2 linked regions of the Homo sapiens genome follow. The protein of the gene in region 1 interacts with the protein of each later gene in a biochemical or structural test. Each region holds a gene or a part of one and is shown on either strand. Other genes may lie near its edges. The genes, in order: CEACAM5 and CD1D.

Region 1 (4,590 bases):
CCCGGGTCACCTCGGCCCACGTCCTCCTCGCCCTCCGAGCTCCTCACACGGACTCTGTCAGCTCCTCCCTGCAGCCTATCGGCCGCCCACCTGAGGCTTGTCGGCCGCCCACTTGAGGCCTGTCGGCTGCCCTCTGCAGGCAGCTCCTGTCCCCTACACCCCCTCCTTCCCCGGGCTCAGCTGAAAGGGCGTCTCCCAGGGCAGCTCCCTGTGATCTCCAGGACAGCTCAGTCTCTCACAGGCTCCGACGCCCCCTATGCTGTCACCTCACAGCCCTGTCATTACCATTAACTCCTCAGTCCCATGAAGTTCACTGAGCGCCTGTCTCCCGGTTACAGGAAAACTCTGTGACAGGGACCACGTCTGTCCTGCTCTCTGTGGAATCCCAGGGCCCAGCCCAGTGCCTGACACGGAACAGATGCTCCATAAATACTGGTTAAATGTGTGGGAGATCTCTAAAAAGAAGCATATCACCTCCGTGTGGCCCCCAGCAGTCAGAGTCTGTTCCATGTGGACACAGGGGCACTGGCACCAGCATGGGAGGAGGCCAGCAAGTGCCCGCGGCTGCCCCAGGAATGAGGCCTCAACCCCCAGAGCTTCAGAAGGGAGGACAGAGGCCTGCAGGGAATAGATCCTCCGGCCTGACCCTGCAGCCTAATCCAGAGTTCAGGGTCAGCTCACACCACGTCGACCCTGGTCAGCATCCCTAGGGCAGTTCCAGACAAGGCCGGAGGTCTCCTCTTGCCCTCCAGGGGGTGACATTGCACACAGACATCACTCAGGAAACGGATTCCCCTGGACAGGAACCTGGCTTTGCTAAGGAAGTGGAGGTGGAGCCTGGTTTCCATCCCTTGCTCCAACAGACCCTTCTGATCTCTCCCACATACCTGCTCTGTTCCTTTCTGGGTCCTATGAGGACCCTGTTCTGCCAGGGGTCCCTGTGCAACTCCAGACTCCCTCCTGGTACCACCATGGGGAAGGTGGGGTGATCACAGGACAGTCAGCCTCGCAGAGGACAGAGACCACCCAGGACTGTCAGGGAGAACATGGACAGGCCCTGAGCCGCAGCTCAGCCAACAGACACGGAGAGGGAGGGTCCCCCTGGAGCCTTCCCCAAGGACAGCAGAGCCCAGAGTCACCCACCTCCCTCCACCACAGTCCTCTCTTTCCAGGACACACAAGACACCTCCCCCTCCACATGCAGGATCTGGGGACTCCTGAGACCTCTGGGCCTGGGTCTCCATCCCTGGGTCAGTGGCGGGGTTGGTGGTACTGGAGACAGAGGGCTGGTCCCTCCCCAGCCACCACCCAGTGAGCCTTTTTCTAGCCCCCAGAGCCACCTCTGTCACCTTCCTGTTGGGCATCATCCCACCTTCCCAGAGCCCTGGAGAGCATGGGGAGACCCGGGACCCTGCTGGGTTTCTCTGTCACAAAGGAAAATAATCCCCCTGGTGTGACAGACCCAAGGACAGAACACAGCAGAGGTCAGCACTGGGGAAGACAGGTTGTCCTCCCAGGGGATGGGGGTCCATCCACCTTGCCGAAAAGATTTGTCTGAGGAACTGAAAATAGAAGGGAAAAAAGAGGAGGGACAAAAGAGGCAGAAATGAGAGGGGAGGGGACAGAGGACACCTGAATAAAGACCACACCCATGACCCACGTGATGCTGAGAAGTACTCCTGCCCTAGGAAGAGACTCAGGGCAGAGGGAGGAAGGACAGCAGACCAGACAGTCACAGCAGCCTTGACAAAACGTTCCTGGAACTCAAGCTCTTCTCCACAGAGGAGGACAGAGCAGACAGCAGAGACCATGGAGTCTCCCTCGGCCCCTCCCCACAGATGGTGCATCCCCTGGCAGAGGCTCCTGCTCACAGGTGAAGGGAGGACAACCTGGGAGAGGGTGGGAGGAGGGAGCTGGGGTCTCCTGGGTAGGACAGGGCTGTGAGACGGACAGAGGGCTCCTGTTGGAGCCTGAATAGGGAAGAGGACATCAGAGAGGGACAGGAGTCACACCAGAAAAATCAAATTGAACTGGAATTGGAAAGGGGCAGGAAAACCTCAAGAGTTCTATTTTCCTAGTTAATTGTCACTGGCCACTACGTTTTTAAAAATCATAATAACTGCATCAGATGACACTTTAAATAAAAACATAACCAGGGCATGAAACACTGTCCTCATCCGCCTACCGCGGACATTGGAAAATAAGCCCCAGGCTGTGGAGGGCCCTGGGAACCCTCATGAACTCATCCACAGGAATCTGCAGCCTGTCCCAGGCACTGGGGTGCAACCAAGATCACACAAATCCCTGCCCTCATGAAGCTCATGCTCTCATGGGGAGGAAGACAGACATACAAAGAGATCTAGAATGTGAGGTCAGGTGTTGACAAGAGCCCTGGAGGGAATAGAGCAGGGAAAGGTCAGAAAAGGAAGACCCAGGGTCTCTAGAGGAGGTGTCAGGGAAGGGATCTCCCAAGAATGCCCTGATGTGAGCAGGACCTGAAGGCAATGGGGAGGGAGCCGTGAAGACCCCTGGAAAAGCAGATTCCACACAGGGAAATGCCAAGGTCAGAGGTGCTAAGGAAATAGGAGACACACTGCTGACCTTGACCTAGTAGGACACACACACACACACACACACACACACACTCACTCACTCCAGGGCTGGGGGATGAAGAGACCTGCTCAGGACCCAGGACCCCATTTTTCCACCCTAATGCATAGGTCCCAATATTGACCGATGCTCTCTGCTCTCTCCTAGCCTCACTTCTAACCTTCTGGAACCCGCCCACCACTGCCAAGCTCACTATTGAATCCACGCCGTTCAATGTCGCAGAGGGGAAGGAGGTGCTTCTACTTGTCCACAATCTGCCCCAGCATCTTTTTGGCTACAGCTGGTACAAAGGTGAAAGAGTGGATGGCAACCGTCAAATTATAGGATATGTAATAGGAACTCAACAAGCTACCCCAGGGCCCGCATACAGTGGTCGAGAGATAATATACCCCAATGCATCCCTGCTGATCCAGAACATCATCCAGAATGACACAGGATTCTACACCCTACACGTCATAAAGTCAGATCTTGTGAATGAAGAAGCAACTGGCCAGTTCCGGGTATACCGTGAGTGATTCCCCCATGACCTCTGGGTGTTGGGGGTCAGTTCTACTTCCCACACACAGGATTATCAGGCCTGGGCTGTGCCTGTGGCCCCCTCTGCATTACGCACCATGTTAGGGTTTGGGCATTTAGTGCAGGATACACACAGAAGAGACAAACTTCAACAGATCAGAATTCCTTTCCGGCATCCAGACCCTGCAGACACTCACTGCAGAGGAAGGACAGTCTGATGTGGGGGACTTAGCAGGGGGAGGTCAGTCTCAGCCAAGCACCCCGTGCCCTCCCCGTAAACCTGACCCTGAGAAAGACCCTGGAGAACTGCATCAGAGCCTGGCCTGAGGGACCCCTGGGATATTCACAGAGAAGCTCAGCCCCAGGGCTCCTGGTTCCAGGTGACTCAGGGGAGCCTGTGCCAGGGCTGTGTTGTGGCCTCCTGGGCAAGGCTAACTGGAAGCAAGGACTTAGCAGCTGTCCAAGGGCTGTGGCTCCTGGAGCTGGATTCTGGATGCAGAATCGGACTTTCTGGCCACACTTGTTCCCTGTCCCCAGAGTCTCATTTGGACAAGGACAGAGCCTTGTCCTTTACTTGAGACTCAATGTGGGGAGGATAGATAGACAAGGTTATTAGGGTGTCAGTCCATTGCCCTGGGGACATAGGTGACTCCATGGGAAGCTCAGTGTCCCCAGGAAGAGGAACAGAGGAGAGAAGATGCTCCCGGCAGCTCCTTGTCCACCAGGGATCAGGCCCAGGGCCTTCTCTCTTGGAGGCAAATAAACATAAATGATGTTCATTTGAGCAGCTCCTCTGTGCAGAGCTGAGATCAAGTAATTGTAAATATTTTGAGGTTAATTCACAAACAACCTCACAGCCAAATAGCACTTATCCTACTTATTGAAAGGAAATTGAGGCACAGGGAGACAGTCACTAACAAGGGTCACACAGGCCATAGGTGTCAGATTGAAGTCACATGAGGTCTGTCTGTAGCCACAGCCCCCTCCTCTCCTCAACTGGGGGTGGGTGGGGCTGTTTGTTGTTAGGCATCTGCATCTGAGACCAGTCATGGGCTTGCGTTCTTTTGTCTTGGGCATCCACAGCTCAGAAGCGGAGATTCTGGTCTGGAGAGTGATAAGTAAATGGAGAAATAATCAGTTTTACTCTAGAACTAGATCACCTCAACAGTCAGGGTCAGTGCCGGGATTGTCCAGGCCTCTCCCTGAGATCCACAGCCCCCTCACATGACCTCAAATCCTGTGTTTCCCGATGTGTCAGTGTCACTCCCACGGAAGGATAAAGGAAAGGACTTCGCTTTCTCTCCCCACTCACACCCTGTGCCAACAGAGGCCCAAAGTGAGACACACGCTTGCTCAGTAGCTCTCTCATGAAGGGGGGAATGAGTGAAGGAATGATCCATAACCTCTATAGAGACTGGATCCTGGATGCAGAATCCTGGGAGGTTCTGACCACACCTGTTCCGT
Region 2 (4,463 bases), on another chromosome or scaffold:
ATTTTGTATCCAAATTTAATAATTTAACACCTTATTTGTTACAAGAACACGTTACTATGTTATTTTAAGCTTTTTTGGGCAAATTACACATAATTAGATAGGCTGGGTTAGGGCTGTCTACAAGATCCCAGCCTAGAGTGTGGTGCAGTAGCCTATTTTCTCTAGGACTCTTGCTGCAACAGGATATGGGAGAAGGGAAACATTAACGTTAGCAGAATGGGAGGAATCAGATTATGGAGACATGATCCTTGCCTTCTGGCACCTCTCCAGCTGATTTAGAAGAGGACACAGAGGGAGACAGACATATGGCCATTTCTATAATTATAAACTCTGCTACATGCTGAGAGGATGGCTTCTCAAAGCCAGTTAGTGTACAAGCAGTGGAGGTTGGGACTGCCCTACTTCTCCTGCCTAGGGTCACACAGTCTGGCAGATCTGGAAAGACTTCCCTGAGAAAGTGACCTTGGAACTGATACCTTAGTGGAAATAACTAGGCATTGGGAGGGGGTGAGGTGAGGAGAAGGTCAAGAGCTTTCATGTAGAGGGAACTTTGTGCAGAGACCTTAGTCAGGAAGAGGTTTTGCATAGTGGAGGAACTGAAAGCTAACAGCCAGGCTACAGTACAGAGCAAATGATGCTGGGGTGTGAGGTGATGTCAAAAGGTAGACACCAGGGCTAGAGGGCGCATAATCTTGCAGGCCGTGCTAATGATTTTGTTTTCTACCCAAGAATGCTACTTCAGGAGATCAGTCAAAAGGTTAGGGTGATGGTGACGGTGGAAATATAGAAAAAGGAATTTATTCAAGAGGTATTCAAAAAGAAGTGAAATAGAGATGAGTTGGAGATAGATTGGATAAAAAGAGTGAGGGAGAGGGAGGTGTCAGGCTGCAGCCCAGGTTCTGAGTTGCCAAAGAGGAGTCTTTTCCTCCAGGTGAGCTAAGGCTTAGAACCACGATTTTTGGTCACTTTTTCTTATTTTCAGTGTGAGAAGTGGCGAGTTGGCTGTCCAGGTACACACTGTCATCTTACACTTACTGTTTAAGACAGAGGCGCATATTTGGAAAGTGAATGAGTCAGGAGCCAGAGGAGAAGGTATGCCGGCAGAGCCTAGGGCGGAGAGGAGGAAGAGAGTCTGGGGGCGCGTCCCCAAAAAGGAGACAGGGAAGACAGAGCAGAGGCCGGGGAGGGGAGAGCAAGGACCATGACAGGAGGAAAGAGAGGCTAGGGAACACTGAGGTGGAGGAATCCTGGGATATGACAGTTGTAAAGAATTGTAGCCAACCTAATCCAGTTCTCTCAATGTGCAACTGAGGAAATTAATTTTCATGCGTTTACTTTATTGTAAATGTGGTACTTGCACTTGAGAAATTTTGGAAAACATAAAGATGTAAAGCAAATTAAGATCACTCATAGTCTTTCCACCTAGAGACATGTACTGCTAAAGCAAGGACTTTGATCCTTTTTTCCCTTTGCATTTTTACCATGGTTGGAATTGTAACACAGACACAACCTTATGTCCTGCTTCCAAAACATAAATAATGGTTGTAAAGCGTCCCACACGTTGACCCAAAGTCTCCTTTGAAACAGGAAATTGAGACACGCCGGTTGTGAAACCTACTGAAGTGAGCGGCGGCGCCAGGATTCCTGGGACCCCGACCTCTTTGCAGCTCGCACAGCTAAGGGCGAGGGCGCCCTTCGGCAGAAGCAGCAAACCGCCGGCAAGCCCAGCGAGGAGGGCTGCCGGGGTCTGGGCTTGGGAATTGGCTGGCACCCAGCGGAAAGGGACGTGAGCTGAGCGGCGGGGGAGAAGAGTGCGCAGGTCAGAGGGCGGCGCGCAGCGGCGCTCCGCGAGGTCCCCACGCCGGGCGATATGGGGTGCCTGCTGTTTCTGCTGCTCTGGGCGCTCCTCCAGGCTTGGGGAAGCGCTGAAGGTGGGTGGAACGAGGGCGCTTGAGTGCACTCGCGGGAGGGCGGAGAGAGGGAGCTGGGTAGGGACGGGGAGGGCAACGCCTGATGGGGACTGGTGAGACCCGGGACGCACTGGCGCGATCTAGGTAGAAAACTCGCTGCTCCCTGGCTCCGGGGAGAGGCAGCGCGGCACAGAGTTCGCTGGCATCAGCCGCCTCCTGAAGCTCATCTCCTCTTGTTTCTTTCTTCCTTCTCTTTATGCTGGCTGCTCTCCCGGCCACTTGCTACACGCCTCCAATCTTCATTCTCTCCCAGTCCCGCAAAGGCTTTTCCCCCTCCGCTGCCTCCAGATCTCGTCCTTCGCCAATAGCAGCTGGACGCGCACCGACGGCTTGGCGTGGCTGGGGGAGCTGCAGACGCACAGCTGGAGCAACGACTCGGACACCGTCCGCTCTCTGAAGCCTTGGTCCCAGGGCACGTTCAGCGACCAGCAGTGGGAGACGCTGCAGCATATATTTCGGGTTTATCGAAGCAGCTTCACCAGGGACGTGAAGGAATTCGCCAAAATGCTACGCTTATCCTGTGAGCTGAGGGATAGGATCCTGGGCCGGTACCCAAGGGGAGAGAATGGCCACAGAAACTCAACTGGGAGACTGTGGCACCACCTGATGAGATTCTCTGCTCTGTCCACCCTCTTCTGATTTCCCTTCTACCTGGAGATGTCCCAGGCTTTGACTCCTCAAAGTGTCCCTCGTTCCTGCCTACTCCAGGTCACTTACTTTCCTTTCCCTGAAGTCTGGGTCCCCATTATAACCTGCACATCAATTTCTTCTCTTTCATCTCTCCCAGTCTTTTAAACCCTTCTTTGATCTTTCTCCATTCCTCTCCACAGATCCCTTGGAGCTCCAGGTGTCCGCTGGCTGTGAGGTGCACCCTGGGAACGCCTCAAATAACTTCTTCCATGTAGCATTTCAAGGAAAAGATATCCTGAGTTTCCAAGGAACTTCTTGGGAGCCAACCCAAGAGGCCCCACTTTGGGTAAACTTGGCCATTCAAGTGCTCAACCAGGACAAGTGGACGAGGGAAACAGTGCAGTGGCTCCTTAATGGCACCTGCCCCCAATTTGTCAGTGGCCTCCTTGAGTCAGGGAAGTCGGAACTGAAGAAGCAAGGTCAGCCTGCCTTCCTTACTCCCTGCATTCCACTTCAGGGCTCCAAACGGGCTTTTCCATTCCAGGGTTCTCATCCCTTTGAGCATTCAAAGAAGAGGAAGGCCCAGGAGGGGCTGGATAAGGGGTGAGGGTATTTATTCATTTCACAGACATCAACTGAGCACCTCTTGGGTTCTATGAATTCAATTAATGAACAACTGGGGGTGAAAGGTGTCAGGCAGTTAGTTAGGATCCCTGCTTGGTAGGGGGATGTTAATTAATGCAATGCTTGAAATAGGCTACATATGTTACTTCAAAACAAAGGGTGTTATAGGGGAACAGACAAGGGGCATTCATAGGAGGCTGGGACCAGAGAAGAAGAAGGAGTATCAGGGCAGGCTCCCTGAAGAAGGTGGGACAAATGGATTGAAAGTTGTGGGAGACTTCATTTCCAGAAGTGAACATGTCAGGGGCATACAGGAAGGAGGGAAATAAAGACCTGAAAGTCAAAAAGGATGATATGAGGCCTGGAGCCTCTAATGCAGAGTTTTCACTTTAAGATCCCCCCCATTCCCTTGTTGGATACAGTGAAGCCCAAGGCCTGGCTGTCCCGTGGCCCCAGTCCTGGCCCTGGCCGTCTGCTGCTGGTGTGCCATGTCTCAGGATTCTACCCAAAGCCTGTATGGGTGAAGTGGATGCGGGGTGAGCAGGAGCAGCAGGGCACTCAGCCAGGGGACATCCTGCCCAATGCTGACGAGACATGGTATCTCCGAGCAACCCTGGATGTGGTGGCTGGGGAGGCAGCTGGCCTGTCCTGTCGGGTGAAGCACAGCAGTCTAGAGGGCCAGGACATCGTCCTCTACTGGGGTGAGAAAAAGCTGGGCCCAAGCTGGAAATGGCAGGAGGTGGTCCTCAGGCATAGAGGGAGGCACTGGGGTGGGATGTGGCTTGATATACCCAGGTTAGAGGAGTTTCAGAGATGAGGCCCCCAGTAAAAGGATAGAGAGAGGGGTTCCAGACACAGGAAGGAGGGAAATAAAGACCTGAAAGTCTAAAAGGATTGAAATAGTGCTCTCTATATACAAGAAGAAACAAGACTACAAAACTCAGGGATCCAGAAGTAGGCAGCGAATAAACAATCCCAGGACGATTCATTCCTTGGCTTAAAGGGAGCCAGGCCTTTGGGAAGGCAGGTTAGCAAAGATAGCTTGGTTGGTTGAGTGCTCCCTGTGTAGGGGCCAATGAATCTGCATATAATATCTCATCTCATCATTCACAGTTTTCTTTGAAGCAAGTACTGCTCTTTTCGTTATATAGATGAGGAAATGAAGGCGGAGATAGGTTAACTGCCCGGAGCCACATAGAAAGTGGACGGGCTGGATTTAGATTCAGGTCTGCCTTGCTA

The links.
Region 2: the proteins of CEACAM5 (region 1) and CD1D form a complex in vitro, tested with the Homo sapiens proteins (one large-scale study listed by IntAct).

Annotation. Positions count from the first base shown.
Region 1 is NC_000019.10:41,706,923-41,711,512, forward strand, and holds the start of CEACAM5 (cell adhesion molecule CEACAM5 isoform 1 preproprotein), read left to right. Parts: upstream 1-1,703; 5' UTR 1,704-1,809; coding exon 1,810-1,873; intron 1,874-2,757; coding exon 2,758-3,117; intron 3,118-4,590. UniProt on the Homo sapiens protein: Cell surface glycoprotein that plays a role in cell adhesion, intracellular signaling and tumor progression. Mediates homophilic and heterophilic cell adhesion with other carcinoembryonic antigen-related cell adhesion molecules, such as CEACAM6.
Region 2 is NC_000001.11:158,179,232-158,183,694, forward strand, and holds the start of CD1D (antigen-presenting glycoprotein CD1d isoform 1 precursor), read left to right. Parts: upstream 1-1,663; 5' UTR 1,664-1,870; coding exon 1,871-1,931; intron 1,932-2,223; coding exon 2,224-2,490; intron 2,491-2,800; coding exon 2,801-3,079; coding exon of another isoform or gene 3,080-3,203; intron 3,204-3,646; coding exon 3,647-3,925; intron 3,926-4,463. UniProt on the Homo sapiens protein: Antigen-presenting protein that binds self and non-self glycolipids and presents them to T-cell receptors on natural killer T-cells.